Regions from separate parts of the Homo sapiens genome. Here region 1 is linked to region 2. Evidence: fine-mapped expression QTL. A gene starts in region 2. The other region holds a variant in brackets. All regions are shown on one strand. Distances are between the middles of the regions. Region 1 overlaps TMEM175 (transmembrane protein 175). Region 2 holds the start of IDUA (alpha-L-iduronidase).

Evidence for each region.
Region 1: its variant is fine-mapped to the expression of IDUA in sigmoid colon (GTEx, PIP 0.91).

Annotation. Positions count from the first base shown.
Region 1 is chr4:948,953-957,060 of GRCh38, reverse strand. It overlaps TMEM175 (transmembrane protein 175), which reads right to left. Exons shown (of 11, transcript NM_032326.4): 4 at 6,543-6,640; 5 at 5,803-5,854; 6 at 5,344-5,379; 7 at 4,611-4,694; 8 at 3,707-3,871; 9 at 1,578-1,656; 10 at 1,171-1,306. Among named protein-coding and RNA genes, the nearest start is that of TMEM175, 21 kb to the right of the region's middle. The variant G/A (reference allele first, on the strand shown) is at 4,329.
Region 2 is chr4:982,258-990,364 of GRCh38, reverse strand. It overlaps IDUA (alpha-L-iduronidase), which reads right to left and starts at 3,321. Exons shown (of 14, transcript NM_000203.5): 1 at 3,123-3,321; 2 at 2,416-2,556. The coding sequence starts at 3,280. SLC26A1 (solute carrier family 26 member 1) reads left to right here. Exons shown (of 3, transcript NM_022042.4): 3 at 3-2,708. The coding sequence ends at 1,532. RefSeq lists enhancers at 93-592, 593-1,094, 3,675-3,734, 4,910-4,959 and silencers at 2,855-3,032, 2,815-3,464.

The DNA.
Region 1 (8,108 bases), 33 kb after region 2:
CCACGCTGCTGCCTCTCTTCGGCAGGTCCCTCCCAAGGGGAGCCTCAGCTGGCCTGCACAATCAGGCAGCTCACCCTGGAGCATCCCTGGCACCTGGGCCTTAGAGATCAGATGCCAATGAACGTTTGCTTCCCGTTTTTAAAAATGCACACGACAGCAGAGAAGAGCATCAGGAGACTTGGACTCGAGAATATCAAGTACAGGATATAAAACCATAGTGTCTAACCCCAAGGTGGTCACAGTGCTGAACTATGACGAGGGAACAAGACACTCCAAAAGGATGGAAGATGTAAAAAAGCAAATTCAAACATTACGATGGCCGGGCACGGTGGCTTACACCTGTAATCCCAGCACTTTGGGAGGCCGAGGTGGGCAGATCACCTGAGGTCAGGAGTTCAAGACCAGCCTGGCCAACTTGGTGAAACCTCATCTCTATTAAAAATGCAAAAAGTTAGCTGGGCATGGTGGTGGGTGCTTGTAATCCCAACTACTTGGGAGGCTGAGGCAGGAGAATTGCTTGAACCTGGGAGGCGGAGGTTGCAGTGAGCTGAGCTTGAGCCACTATACTCCAGCCTGGGCGACACAGCAGGACTGTCTCAAAAAAAAAAAAAAAAAAACCCCACAAAAACCAAAAACGTGACGACTGAGACGAGACGCGCGCTCTAACAGACGAAGAGGCAGATGAGGCCGCGGAGGAGCAGACGCTGGAAGGAAGCAACAGCCAGCCAAAGGGAGCAGGAGGGGCTGCGAAGCGATGGGGGGCACTGGGAGGGAGCCGGAGGGAATGGGAGGGACTAGGGACTAGGAGGGGCTGGTGTTGGGGCAGGGGTGAGGCCTGGGGCAGGGGGATACCCATGGCTGCTGAGCCCCTCTGAGAGGAGTGAGGAGAGCAGTTGGCTGCTGGTGCTGACCTCACCCTGGCACCCCATCCTCGGCTGTGCTTGGGGTGGGAGCCGCTGGGAAGGGAGGGGCCGCTGGGAAGGGAGGGGCCGCCGGGAAGGTTGTCCTCCCTGAAGTGGGGGCTGCCCTGACCTCACACAAAACTCTAGGCATCCAGAGGAGGGTGGAGCCAAGACCCCTGTGCCTTTCTGGGGTTTCCAGGATGAGACGCCAGGGACTCAAGACACATTGGCCACCTGATAGCTGGGGCAGGTGACGCGGGGTCCTCACCAGATGTCCAGGATGAGAAGCGTGGCCACGATGGCGTAGACTCCGTCGCTGAAGGCTTCCACGCGCTCCTTGCTGAGTGGCTCGTGGAGGTCAAACGAGAAGACTTCCACTGGGTGAGCCGAGGGCTCCCTGTGGCCTGGGGACACGCCAGGAGGGTGGAGCTGGCCAAACCCCCCATGTGGAGGTAGAGCCCGCGTGGCTGTCACCGCCCTCATCCATGAAGAGGCCTGGAATGTGCAGGCCAGGAGAGGAGACAGGACAGGGACGCCCGAGGGGCGGAGTGGGGGAGCCCCAGCCACCACCACGCACACGGGCCTCGGCCCACGGACAGCCCTCAGTGCGGAGCAGCCGCACGGAGGTGGGCGGACTACAGGCCTCTCAGGCCAGCCCACCCAGTCATCACCTACCCAGGAGCCTGTCTCTGCACCAGCCGGTGACCTTGCTGACATAGGGGAGGAGGATGACAGTCACCATCAGCAGGTAAGACTGCAGGGAGACAAACCGCAGGTCAGTGCCCTCCACAGGGGTCCGAGGCCAGGCCTTACCCACACAAAGCTGTGTGCCAAAGCAGGGGCTGCGGCAGAAGGGAGGGTCTTTGCAGATCATGTATCTGATGGGGCCTAGTACCCAAAAAGTGTAAAGGATTCTTAAGCCAGCACAGTGGCTCATGCCTGTAATCCCAGCACTTTGTGGGGCTGAGGCAGGTGGATCGCTTGGGCCCAAGAGTTCGAGACCAGCCTGGGCAACATAGTAAGACTGTATCTCTACGAAAAATAAAAAATTAGTCAGGTGTGACTGTGTGTGCCTGTTGAACCTGGGAGACAGGAGTTGCAGTGAGAGGTGACCCAGCTCACTGCACTCCAGCCTGGGTGACAGAGCAAGACCGTGTCTTAAAATTTATCGTCTATCTCCCTATCTGAAATTCTTACAACTCAAAAATAAAAGGACGACCCAATTAAAAATGGGCAAAGGATGAGAACAGACATTGCTCCAAACAAAACATGCAAATGGTCGACCTCTCGCAGATCAAAACCACAACGAGATTCTTCATATCCACTAGGATGGAGAGAACTGAAAAACAGCAGGTGTTGATGAGGATGTGGACAAACTGGAACCACCATGTGCTGCTGGTGGGAATGTAAAATGCTGCAGCTGCTGTGGAAGTTTGGTGGTTCCTCAAAAAATTAAACTTAAAAAATTAAACAGAATCACCAAATGACCCAGAAACTCACTGTGGGCACACACACCAACAGCCTGAGAAGACAGATCTGAAGAGACACGTGTCCAGCAATGCTCAGAGAGGCATCACTCCAGCAATGCCCACAGTGGCTCCACACGCAACAATGCTCACACCGGCGCCACTCACGGCAGCTACACGTCTCCAGCAGTGCTCACAGCGGCGCCACTCACGACACCTACACGTCTCCAGCAGTGCTTTTGTTGCCTTCTCCCTCTCCCTAGTGGCTCACATTCTCCAAGCACCAACAGCTGATGTCCCCATGAGCAGATACTGGTCTTATCCCCAGGGGCTCCTCCTCCAAACACTGTTTGATGTTTACTGTCCTGACACAGTTTTGTATAGATTCCTTATCCAAAAGAAAATAGGCTGGACGCAGTGGCTCATGCCTGCAATCCCAGCACTTTGGGAGGCTGAGGTGGGTGGATCACAAGGTCAGGAGTTCGAGACCAGCCTGGCCAACATGGTGAAACCCCGTGTCTACTAAAAATACAAAACTTAGCTGAGGGTGGTGGCAGGCACCTGTAATCCCGGCTACTCAGGAGGCTGAGGCAGGAGAATTGCTTGAACCTGGGAGGCAGAGGTTGCAATGAGCCGAGATTGCGCCAGTGCACTCCAGCCTGGCAGCAAAACTCCGTCTCAAGAAAAAAAAAAGAAAAAAAGAAAATAAAGGCTGGCGTGGTGGCTCACACTGTAATCCAGCACTTTGGGAGGCTAAGGCGGGAGGATCACTTTAGTCCAGGCATTCCAGACTAACCTGGGCAATATAGCAAGACTCTGTCTCCACAAAAAATACCAAAACTACCCAGGTGTGGTGGTGCACACCTGTAGTCCCAGCTACTTGGGAGGCTGAGGTGAGAGAATCACTTGAGCCCGGGAGGTCGAGGCTGTGGTGAGCCAAGATCACACCACTGCCCTCCGGCCTGGGTGACACAGCGAGATCTTGCCTCAATGAACAAAAAACAAAACAAGAAAACGCATGCACCCCCGGATTCCGGGTGTCGCTGTTTCTGGTCATCGTCATCGTGAAGCTTCTCTGAGAAGGACACTCAGCTGCCCCTTCCTTCGATGAGCGTCCGTCTCTGTCCTCGACAGGCTGGGTCTCGGGGCCTCAGGTGGAGCAGGCCTCCCTCCCTGGTGCCACTCACTGCAGCCCTGGGCCTCACACACAAGACCCTGGGTGGAACCCCTGCCTGTCTGCGCTCTGCCCCCACCCCCGTGTTTGTTGCTCAGCGGGGACATTGCTCCTATGGTGGCCCCCGTTCCTGCCTGGGCCCCACGGGCTGTCCCAGCACTCACCAAGGGGACAAAGAAGAGAGAGAAGATGGCCGCTGCAAAGCACAGGGCCGGGCCTTGGAGGACGATGCCCAGGACGTGTCGTCGGTACAGAGCCCTGTGGGCAGAGCGCTGGATCTGCGGGCTCAGCAGGTGCGGGAAGTGGAATGCGTACCCCACAATCAGTGCCTGCGGGAAAAGCAAGCTGTAGGACACAGGCCCCAAGAGCAGAGGGGGCCCCCACAGCAGTCAACCCCCGGGCTGCATGGCACACGCACGCAAGGGTCTCGAGGTGGGGAGGACCTGGCCCCGGGCTGCATGGCACGCGCGCACAGGGGTCTTGGGGTGGGGGAGGACCTGGCGAGTAGAGGTGGGCTTGTACCTGGGACACTTTGGGCACAGGGGCTGAGGTGGAGAGAGAACAGGAGCCCCTGCTGGCTCCTGGGGCCGCATGTGGGGGGTCTCAGGGCCCACTCTTCCCAGTCTCTGGTCAGAAAGCGGGGACTCTGGGCATGCCACATCCTATGTGTGTAGGTGGCCTCAGGAACCCTACCTGTGTGACCTGACGGCAATCGATCACTCACACATATACACACACACATACAGCACACACACACACACAGCACAGGGCCCCGGGCCCCAAGAG[G/A]GCTGATGGTGAACACACACGCACACACACACACAGAGCACAGGACCCCGGGCCCCAAGAGCACTGATGGTGAACACACACACACACACACACACACACACACAGCACAGGACCCCAGGCCCCAAGAGGGCTGATGGTGAACACACACACACACACACACACACACACAGTGCAGGCCCCCTGGGCCCCCTACCTGCACGACCCCGATGGTGATCACACACACACACACACACACACACACACACACACACACACACAGTGCAGGCCCCCCAGGCCCCCTACCTGCACGACCCCAATGGCGATCACACACACACAGAACAAGAAGATGCCCAGAGGCACATCAGGGAAGGTCACCATTAACGAAAACTGTTAAAACAAAAACAAAACCAAACCCCCCCAAATCCTAGGTTACCAGGCCCCAGAGCCTGGAACTGGGCCATGGTGAGCCTCCCCACTCCACGGGACGCTGGGAGATGCGGTGGGGCCATCACAGGATGGCGCCAGCTGGGTGCTGGGGGGCATGTGTCCAAACTGCCCCCACCCCAACCAACTCCACCAGATGTCTCAGGCCTTTAAAGCCAAAATGTCATCCGATTCATACGGAATTCCCCAGACCCCAGTTCCTTGTGGCACACAGCCCCGCACACTCAGACTAGCGGCCACTGCCAGAATTTGGAGGCACTTTCACAGCCTGAGTAGTACAGGGCGGGTGGTCGGAGGCTGTAGGGGCTGCACGCCAGGGACAGGCCTGGGATGGGCAGGGGGCTGTGGGCTCAGGGCCGGGTGGGAGCTGGGAGCGCCGGTGACTCCCTCATCGGGGCCACTGCCTCCCCTCCCCGCCAGCCTGAAAGAAGCCCCCAACAGCCCAACAGCTGGCTCTCCCCAGAACCTTCTCTCTTCTCTACAACCGTGTGGCCTGGGCCCTGGGCCATCCAGCTGGTCTGCTTTTGAGGACAGGTCAAATCCAGTGGTGCCCAGCAAAGCCTCAGGGTGTCAGGGGCCTGGTGTTGCTCACCGTGTAAGGCAGGAAGGTGATGGTCATCATGCAGGCCTGGAGGGAGGGAGGGCATCACAGCCATGATGCGGCCTGGGGAGAAGGGCAGGGGAATGGACAGAGCCCACTCCGGGAAGGCACAGGGCTGGGCCCTCCCCAAGAAGGGTGGGCCAGCGAGTGTGAGTCCAGCCCCCAGACCCTGCAGGGCCAGATGGGGGCACTCATCCTCTCTGTCCCCTACACCTGTGCCCAACCCAGTGCCCCTGGTCCCCCACACCCTGGCTGTGTCTGGGAGGAGATATAGGCTGGCGACCCATGGGGAGGGAAAGATCATTCAAGGAGCTCCCAGCTGTGGACAGATTCCAGGCTCCGAGACTCCCTGGAGGTCACGAGAGAGGCCGGCTGCTCCCTTCCCCTCTTCCCTGAGGGTCAGATTACAGACCAGAGTCACTCCCCAGAAAAGGACCGGAAAATACTCACCAGGTTGAGCAGGGCAAGTGTGTCGTCTGTTTTCCCAACAACTTGGAACAACCTAAACCATTTAAGAAAAAGATAGACAATAAAACGCGGTTGTAGTAACATTAAATGCACACACACTCTTTCCAGCATCTTCTGGTTAAAACATCATTAAAAGATGTCACTGTTAACCAAATATAAACTACTACCTAGTGCACGGAGTTTGGAAAACACGAAGGAAATGAAGTTCCCTAGAAAGCACCCTGCTCCCATCCACACCCTGCACCATCCGCACCGCCCACACCTCCGCCTACTGCACCATCCACACCATCCACACCTCCACCTATTGCACCATCCACACCATCCACACCATCCACACCTCCACCTATTGCACCATCCACACCTCCACCTACTGCACCGTCCACACCTCCGCCTACTGCACCATCCACACCATCCACACCTCCACCTATTGCACCATCCACACCATCCACACCTCCGCCTACTGCACCATCCACACCGTCCACACCTCCACCTATTGCACCATCCACACCTCCACCTACTGCACCGTCCACACCTCCGCCTACTGCACCATCCACACTGTCCCAGGCCCTGGGTTTGGGGTAAGTCCTGCCATCCCCACGCGGATGAGGGTGGGAGGAGTAGCCTGCTGTCCTCCCCGACCCCATGGACCCGTGCGTGATGTGGTGCGGGGTACGGGAACCTTGAGAGCAGCTATGGACCGCTGGAAGCGCCCGGGCCCCCACCTTGTGTGTGCTGCCCAGGCCACTGTCACGATGAGAAAGGTCATCAGGTAGACGGCAATCCGTGTTGCCAGAAGCCTCTGTACACTTCTGTCGAACTGCTGGAATACAAGAGCACTGCTGTCAGAGCCCAGGTGACATGAGTGTCCCTGAATGGCAGTCGAGACAGCACCGTGAGGGGGGGCTGGCCTCGGCCCAGGGCAGGGCGAAACCCTCGGGTGGGTCCTGTGAGGCACCTGGGAGGGTCCTGGCCTCCCCAGCAGACCCTGAGTGCCCTGGTCTGGGTCCAGCCTCCGTCTCCAGCTGGTCTGTCTCCCCTGGCACCTGCAGCCCCCACCCCTCCAGCCCCCACCCCTTCTCCAGGGCGCTGATCCATGCCCACACCCACAGGTGTACTCCAGAGTGTTCTATGGGCTGTGTTCCTGCTGGGGGGTCAGCTCTTAATGGGCTCGGTGTCTGCTGTGGACTCCGCCTCAGGGATGGTACCCTCTGTGTATCCGCATGTGGGAGGGGACAGGAGGGCAAAAGCACCAGGTCACGAATGTCATTCATGAGGCTCTGCCATCATAACCGGGTCACCACCGAAAGGCTCTGCCTCACAACGCCATCCCTGTGAGGCGTCCGGCATGCGGACTTCGGAAGGACACACAGGTTGACAGCACAAAAGGGTCACACCTGGCACTGCCTAGGTAGGCAATTCCAAAGCAGCCACGGGAAAGGGTCTCTGTGGAAGCTGCGAGGGACCCCGAAGGCAGCCTGCCCTGGGGGCCGCGGTGGGCGTGGAGGCACCGGGGCCCTCGCCCTCCAGCCCTGGGAAGGTTTTCATGCTTTCTCCACGAACGCTCCCAACAGAACACTGAGCACTTTACTGTCTCCCTTGGTTCTTCACTTGCAGGCAGGTCTCTGGGTCAATAACTTAGTGTTTCAGTCACTTCTTAATTGAGTCCCATTTAGCTTTTCGAATCATGGGTTTTCAAAGTTACAACTGTCTTTTATTTTTCATCAGAGTGAGCACAGCCCCAGGAGTCCCCTCTCCTCACAAGGAGGTGTCCACTGTTCTAGCACCTTCCCTGGGACACACGTCAGGCCTTTCCCTCTTCACATAAATGTGTTCTCTGAATGAGCTTTTGACTCTCCAGGACTTTCTGAGACTCAGACCCTCCCTGTGACCCAGTTAGGACAACAGAGAAAAGACAGGGCACTAAACACCACAGTCCTAGAAAGGTGCCCTGGCTGCAGAGAAGTCGGAGCAGGTTTAGGTTCACAGGTTTTTATTTTCAACCACCCGGGCCCTTCATTGTCATGCGCCCTCTGGCACGGGCATCACAGGTGGATGTGGCCGTACCTCAGCGACCCCGTTCTGAAAGGGGCAGCCAAGGCCAGTACCTCACGACTGCATTTGGCCAAGCCCACCCCATGGGCCTCGGTGGGGACGCAGCTTTCCTGAGCAGCTGCCCCCCTAGGGAGGGCGGGAGCGGCTCTGGGGTCCCAGTGCCTGTGCTGCTTGCTGCCTGCTGGTGCCCAGGGTCTCCCTGCAGACTGGGCCAGGCTCCACCCGCATTTCTACTT
Region 2 (8,107 bases):
AGGTCCTCATGGGCGTCCTCCGGCTGGGCTTCGTGTCCGCCTACCTCTCACAGCCACTGCTCGATGGCTTTGCCATGGGGGCCTCCGTGACCATCCTGACCTCGCAGCTCAAACACCTGCTGGGCGTGCGGATCCCGCGGCACCAGGGGCCCGGCATGGTGGTCCTCACATGGCTGAGCCTGCTGCGCGGCGCCGGGCAGGCCAACGTGTGCGACGTGGTCACCAGCACGGTGTGCCTGGCGGTGCTGCTAGCCGCGAAGGAGCTCTCAGACCGCTACCGACACCGCCTGAGGGTGCCGCTGCCCACGGAGCTGCTGGTCATCGTGGTGGCCACACTCGTGTCGCACTTCGGGCAGCTCCACAAGCGCTTTGGCTCGAGCGTGGCTGGCGACATCCCCACGGGTTTCATGCCCCCTCAGGTCCCAGAGCCCAGGCTGATGCAGCGTGTGGCTTTGGATGCCGTGGCCCTGGCCCTCGTGGCTGCCGCCTTCTCCATCTCGCTGGCGGAGATGTTCGCCCGCAGTCACGGCTACTCTGTGCGTGCCAACCAGGAGCTGCTGGCTGTGGGCTGCTGCAACGTGCTACCCGCCTTCCTCCACTGCTTCGCCACCAGCGCCGCCCTGGCCAAGAGCCTGGTGAAGACAGCCACTGGCTGCCGGACACAGCTGTCCAGCGTGGTCAGCGCCACCGTGGTGCTGCTGGTGCTGCTGGCGCTGGCACCGCTGTTCCACGACCTACAGCGAAGCGTGCTGGCCTGCGTCATCGTGGTCAGCCTGCGGGGGGCCCTGCGCAAGGTGTGGGACCTCCCGCGGCTGTGGCGGATGAGCCCGGCTGACGCGCTGGTCTGGGCAGGCACCGCGGCCACCTGTATGCTGGTCAGCACAGAGGCCGGGCTGCTGGCTGGCGTCATCCTCTCGCTGCTCAGCCTGGCCGGCCGCACCCAACGCCCACGCACCGCCCTGCTGGCCCGCATCGGGGACACGGCCTTCTACGAGGATGCCACAGAGTTCGAGGGCCTCGTCCCTGAGCCCGGCGTGCGGGTGTTCCGCTTTGGGGGGCCGCTGTACTATGCCAACAAGGACTTCTTCCTGCAGTCACTCTACAGCCTCACGGGGCTGGACGCAGGGTGCATGGCTGCCAGGAGGAAGGAGGGGGGCTCAGAGACGGGGGTCGGTGAGGGAGGCCCTGCCCAGGGCGAGGACCTGGGCCCGGTTAGCACCAGGGCTGCGCTGGTGCCCGCAGCGGCCGGCTTCCACACAGTGGTCATCGACTGCGCCCCGCTGCTGTTCCTAGACGCAGCCGGTGTGAGCACGCTGCAGGACCTGCGCCGAGACTACGGGGCCCTGGGCATCAGCCTGCTGCTAGCCTGCTGCAGCCCGCCTGTGAGAGACATTCTGAGCAGAGGAGGCTTCCTCGGGGAGGGCCCCGGGGACACGGCTGAGGAGGAGCAGCTGTTCCTCAGTGTGCACGATGCCGTGCAGACAGCACGAGCCCGCCACAGGGAGCTGGAGGCCACCGATGCCCATCTGTAGCAGGGCCAGGCCTGCCCAGCAGCCTCTGCTCCCTCCTGGGGACCCACAGCAGACGTCTGCAAGCCACTGCTGAGACCCTTCCCAGGGAGGAGCCACCCAAGAGCTGCACTCTTGTGCCACAGCTGCCCTGGGGAAACCGGGGAACCCCAACTGGGAAAGGAGGCCCTCTGATCACACGCAGGACCCAAACACTCAGAAATCAAGAACCTCTGCCTCCGAGACAGGCTGGCCCACAGTGCTGGCTGGGCCCCAATGCACCGTCCCTCAGCTCAGGAGGGATGGGCCTGACCTGACGCTCAGGGTTGACATCTTATTTGAACAAGGGTCCCCCGCCATCATGCAGCCTCCAAGGTGCCAAGAGGACTCCCTATGCCCAGGCCTGCCCGGTGCCCACCCTGCTGGTAGGAGCCAGCGGCTCTGGCCAAGTGCACGAGGGTCTCTGTGTTTCCAGAAGGCCCCACACACCCAAGTGCCCCTCACACCTCGTGCCTCCCCCTCACAGGGTGGCCACCTGCACCAGCGTCAGGGCCCAGGGTGCTGTGACCGATGAGACCTCAGCTCAGCCCTCAGGTGCAGTGGCCCTACCCAGCCTGGCCAGCAGACACACACAGGGATGCTCACGGGTGCACCAGGAGCCAGGTGCGGCGCAGCCAACCCTGAGCCTGCAGGGAGACCTGCAGGAAGCCCACCGTGCCCCATGCAGGGGCTCCCTCCAGCACACAGCCCTCACCCCAGCACAGCCAGCAAGGACACGCTCTCCCCAACAGGGTGCTTCGGCGGGAGGTGGGGGAACAAGGGGTCTTCCGAGCAGCCCCCAGCCCTCCCCTCCCATCTGTGCCTCTGTAAGGGGCTCTGGGACGCCCAGACCCTGCCCGCCGCCCACCTGGTGGTGACAAGCTCCAGCAGCCAGTGGGTCCGGACCTGCTTGATGCCGCGGTGAGGGACGGCGCCCACATAGGCGAGGTTGAGCTGCTGGTCCCAGCTGAGGACGTACTGGTCAGCCTGGCTGTGTGGCAGCGGGGGGCTGGGGACAACAAAGGGGCGGCTCAGTCCCGAGCCTCAGCATGGCTGGCAGCGCGGCTGACACACACGTTCAAGCCCAGGACTGCCCGGGCGCAGGATCCAGGCGCTGCCCGTGCGTTCAGTGACTAATAAAATGACCCTTAGGGCCAGGAATGTGGGGAGGTCCCATCTTCATGGGGAACGGCAGCAGCAGTAAGACGAGGGGCCAACGCCAGCCCTGGCCCTGGCCCTGCCAGGAAGGCGGGTACCTCAGCTCTAGGTGGAAGGAATGGGACAGGCAGGCCAGGTCCCGCTGCAGGGCCGTCCACTCCCAGGGGAGACTCCTGGTTTACCTCAAAGAGCAGGATCCCGGGCATCGGCCTGGGCTGCAGGGGGCGGCCCAGGCTCACGCCCCGGCGCCCACTCAGGTGGAGGACCCACCCACAAACACGGCGGGGGGCGGGCCCGGGAGAGCCAGGGCCCCAGAGGAGGGAGCTCCGGTCTCTGAAGCTCTCACAGTGCGCAGTCAGGGGGCGCCCGAGCTCTCCCCGTGCGGCCAGGGGGTCCCGGAGGCCGCGGAGCGCTCACCAGAAGCCTGTGCTCCTCCAGAAGCGCCGCAGGGGCCACAGCGCGCGGGCCGCGTCCACATGCACCAGGTGCGGGGCCTCGGCCGGGGCCACCGGGGGCGCGGCCAGGAGCGAGGCCAGGAGCGCCAGCAGCGCGGCGCGGGGGCGCAGGGGACGCATGGCCACGCGTGCTCGGGGACTGCGGGGCTTCGGGCTGCACTGCCGGTTCCGCCTCCGGGTCGGAGTCTGGGCGCGCACCCCATGTGACCGCCGCCGCGGGGCGGGGCCTTGGTGAGGGGGCGATGGCCGGGTGGGAGGGGTTGGGTGGCCTCGGGGAGCCTCGGGGAGCCGGGAGCACGGCAGGGCTTGGAGCCCCGCTTCCTTGCGGGCCTCAGGGGCTGCTCTGAGGACCGATGACTCGGAAAGCGCTCAGAAGAACGCTTCGCCCGTTGGTGCTATGTGAGTTGAGCCATTACTGTCTTGTTTTTCTCTGTTTTTGTGTGTTTTTGAGACAGAGTCTTGCTTTGTCGCCCAGGCTGAGGTGCAGTGGCGCGATCTCAGCTCACTGCAACCTCCATCTCCGGGGCTTCAGCGATTTTCTCACCCCAGCCTCCTGAGTAAAGCGTGCGCTTTAGCAGGAAGGAGAATTACCCCAGAAGAGCACACTGGGCCCTCCTTACACTTGGCTTCAGATCCATGGATTCAACCAAGCAGACTGAAAATATTGTTTTAAAGCCAAAGCAATACGAAATAATACATATTTTAAAACAATACAGTATAACAGCTATTTACAGAGCATTTACATTGTTTTAGGGACTATAAGTAATCTTGATTTAAACTACACAGTAGGATGTGCGTAGGTAATGTGCAAATACTGTGCCATTTTATATCAAGTACTTGAGCACCTGCAAATTTTGGTATCTGGGAGGGTCCTGGAACCAATACCCCGAGGATACCATGGGACAACTGTAGTACATGTGTAGTCCATGTATGCATGTGTGAATCCAAGCAAACATTGTATAAAAATAATAATGGAAAGAACAGGCTTGGTGCGGTGGCTCACACCTGCAATCCCAGCACTTTGGAATTGCAGGCCAACACGGGAGGATCACTTGAGGCCTGGAGTTTGAAATCGGCCTGGGAGATGTACCAAGACCCCATCTGTACAAAAAAAAAATTTAGCCAGATGCGATGGTATATGCCTGTGAGGCCCAGCTACCCACGAAATTGAGGTGGGAGATTGCTTGAGCTTAGGAGTTCAAGGCTGAGACGGGCCATGATCACACCACTACATTCCAGCCTGGTTGACAAAATGAGACCCCATCTCTAAAAAAAGAAAAGAAAAAAAGAACAGTCTACTAACAAAACGAAAATACTGGACAATAATCCTCTCTAAGTTGGGAGAAGGATAATTAGAGTTACAGTGTTCTGGGTCTTTTTATTTTGGGGAGAGGGGTTAAAATATTGCTTAACATTAGGTCTTCTTATGTTGAAATTGCATTAAAAGTGATTAGCCATTTAAAAGTGAAATAGTGTGTATATATTCCAAATTAGCAAGGAGGAAAAACATAATACAAAAAAATTCATTAAGAAACTAAAAAGTAAGAAAGGGAGGGAAAGGCGAGAGAAACCATGCAAGTACAGAACTGTCTCCAGGAACAGCGGGGTAAGACCCTCAGTCCAACGACCCCAGAGAAAACAACTAAAATGATGGATAACTCGCTTTAAAAACAATTCCTCAAAGCGTCAGAGAACTGAGAAAAACAGTAAGAAACCACCAGTCCCACACCGTGGTGCAGGACACAGCAATGGAAACTGAATTGTTTCAGACCAGCCGCCTCCTGAGAGCAACCATCAGAACTGGAGAGCGCTGAACGGAACCGTCCAGGGCACTGGGAGCTCTGAGGAGCCTCTGAGGCCTCGGGGCTCTGCAGGGACAAGCCGGGAGGGGGCGGGGCCCGCTTTGGGGCGGCGACTCCACACCCCTGCAGCGTATCCCAGCCACACAAGACATGGCGACACGCTGCTGCGTTCGTTCCTCACACTGTGGCCACAGGACAGAAGTCGAGGCTCAGGCGGGGGGCCTGGTAAAGACTTTGGGTTTTTCTTGGGACCCCAAAGTTCTATCCCCTAAAAGCAAAGGTAAACCAGCAACAGAATTGTCTTTGTGGGGACTGAAGCCAGCCTTAAATCACCTCAAGCCCTGAGAGAATTAAGGTGAGCCGCTCACCGGGACACCTGTGGACAGAAAAGTACACCTTCCCTGGAGGAAGGTAAAACAAAACAAAAACAGACAGAAGTCCTCACTGCACGGTGCTGGAATGGATCCGGGTCAGGAAAAATTATTACAAAGTGCATGATGGGGACATTCACAATTTGGAATATGCCTTGTACATTGTGCAACAAAATTCTACCAATGATAAACTCCAGAATTTTTTTTGTTTTTGTTTTTTGTTTTTTTAAACGAAGTCTCACTCTGTTGTCCAGGCTGGAGTGCAGTGGTGCGATCTCAGCTCATTGCAACCTCTGCCTCAGCCTCCTGAGTAGCTGGGATTACAGGCATGAGCCACCACGCCCAGCCAATTTTTGTATTTTCAGTAGAGACAGCGTTTTACCATCCTGGCCAGGCTGGTCTCGACCTCCTGACCTCGAATGATCCACCTGTCTCGGCCTCCCAAAGTGCTGGGATTATAGGCATGAGCCACCGCGCTGGGTCAAACTCCAGAATTATTAAACGACTCAATGATTGCATCACGGTTGTGAATGGAGATTTTTTGTTCATTTGTGATCCATGCTGAAGGGTTTAGAGGTGAAGAATCAATAGATTTGTAACCAAAGTTGCTCTGGAAATTAAAGCAAAACAATAAATTTAGATTACATACAGAGACTGAGATAAAAGCAAAGGTAGCAAAATATTAACAGTTGGTGAACCTGGGTGAAAACTATATACTGTTATTGCAACTTTTCTGTGAGTTTGAAATTTTTCAAAATGAAAACATTGAAAAAAATATTAAAACCTCATGAAACTTAGTAAAAATTTATTGAATGATACACTTGAACTTGCTTCATTTTATTGTATGTAAATCATATCTCAGTAAAGCTGATAACGAATTGGTTTAACAGCAAATTAAATCCAACTAGGCTGAGCAAGGTGGCTCATGCCTGTAATCCCAGCACTTTGGGAGGCTGAGGCGGGCAGATCACCTGAGGTCAGGAGTTCGAGACCAGCCTGGCCAACATGGTGAAACCCTGTCTCTACCAAAAATACAAAAATTAGCCGGGCGTGGTGGCATGCGTCTGTAATCCCAGCTACTCAGGAGGCTGAGGCAGGAGAATTGCTTTAACCTGGGAGGCAGAGGCTGCAGTGAACCAAGATCACGTCACTGCACTCCAGCCTGGGCAACAGAGTGAGACCCTGTTTCAAAAAGAAAAGACAAAATTAAATGGTGTTCTTCAAGTAGAAAGAATGATGTCCCAAATCCCAGCTCAGAGGTGCAGAGGAAGAAGTGAAGAGTGCGGGGGGAAGGGAAAACCTCCCCTGCCTTTCTGAAGTTTCACTAAAAGGGTACACAGATTTCTTGGATTGTAGTTTTATGTGACACAGCAGCTTTCAGAGCAAAGACCTAAAGGCGCAGGGGAAACCACATTTTTATACTCAGGTTCTGTGAATCTGGAAATAGGATTGGACGAAAGGTTAAGACCTGACAGGCTAACAGACTCCTGGGGGAGCCCAGCGAGGCCCATCTGCTTCGGTTCCTGGAGGCCTCTCTCTGCAGCTCTCCCTCCTGCTGGGTGGGGGCACAACGCCCCGGAATAGGGGTCTGACCACATACAGTCAAACAAGGCAGGCCAGAGAATTCCTTTATGGCCAGTTTTTACACAGAAAGACAGAGAAAAGTTATTAGAGTCATACTTTTAGGTTTATGGCTGGCTTTGGGGAAAAGGGGCTTAGGTTTCTACGACCTGCCTGGGACAATGAGGGGCCAGAGACAGGAGGCAGGAGAAGGCCTGGCTTCCAAGGCCTTCACTCTGGGTGACATTTTCTGAACCCCAACAAAAGCAACAGAAACGGTATATTGTGTATAAACCTAATGAATCGTAACCGCATAAAACAATCATGTTACAGGGTTTCACATATTTCTGGGGAATTAGGATTTACAGCAAGAGTGGCACAGGTGCTGTATGGGAAAAGTGAAGTGAGAGGGGAGGAGAGCCTCCTGAAGACGCCCTCCGTCCTGTCCAGGCCCGCGCCTGTCGCCTCACATGGCGAGCGCCTGCAGGCATGGTTCCGTGAAGCATCCAAGACGTAGAGATGATTCTAGTTATCCGAGTGGGCCCTGAGTGTAATCCCAGTGTTCCTATACAGGGGAGACGGAGGGGGGTTTGACACAGAGGAGGCTGTAACGGCCTCAGGAGAGATTGAAAGATTGTTCTAAAATGTGTCCCCAGGGTTTATTTCAGTGAGGTGTGGGGAGACACACGGACCCGGCCACGACAGGCCAGGAGGAAGGCCTTGCTGTGTGTAGAGACGTGTGCGATTCCGATTTAGATTTTGGGGCTCTGTGAGGCAAGAGATTCACACAGGTCTCTACCCTGCAGGGGACACCTTTTGGGCAATGGCCCAGTGGCTTATAATAAACGTGGGGAAGAAGCCACTGGTCGGCGGAGGCCCTCAGGGCTGAGACCACGCCTGGCACATTGCTTCCAGGTCCGCCTTTCACTGGGGGCGTCCGGGCAGGGGTGGAGCAGCAGCCGTCCACCGGGCTCCCCAGCAGTGTGGCCAGCAGCACCGTACCCTCACGCACGCACCCATTTCTCTTCGCTCAGAGGGTCCCACAGGGCTTGCCAGGCAGCCCAGGGGTTTACGGGAGGTGACCTCCTCCCACACTTGGCATCCGGCAAGCCACCGAGGACAGGGGAAGCCGCCCCCTCCCACAGATGGAAGACAGCAAGGGGCAGCTTTGCCTCCATCCTGCCTAGAGAGGCCTCTCTGAGGCCAAGCTGAGC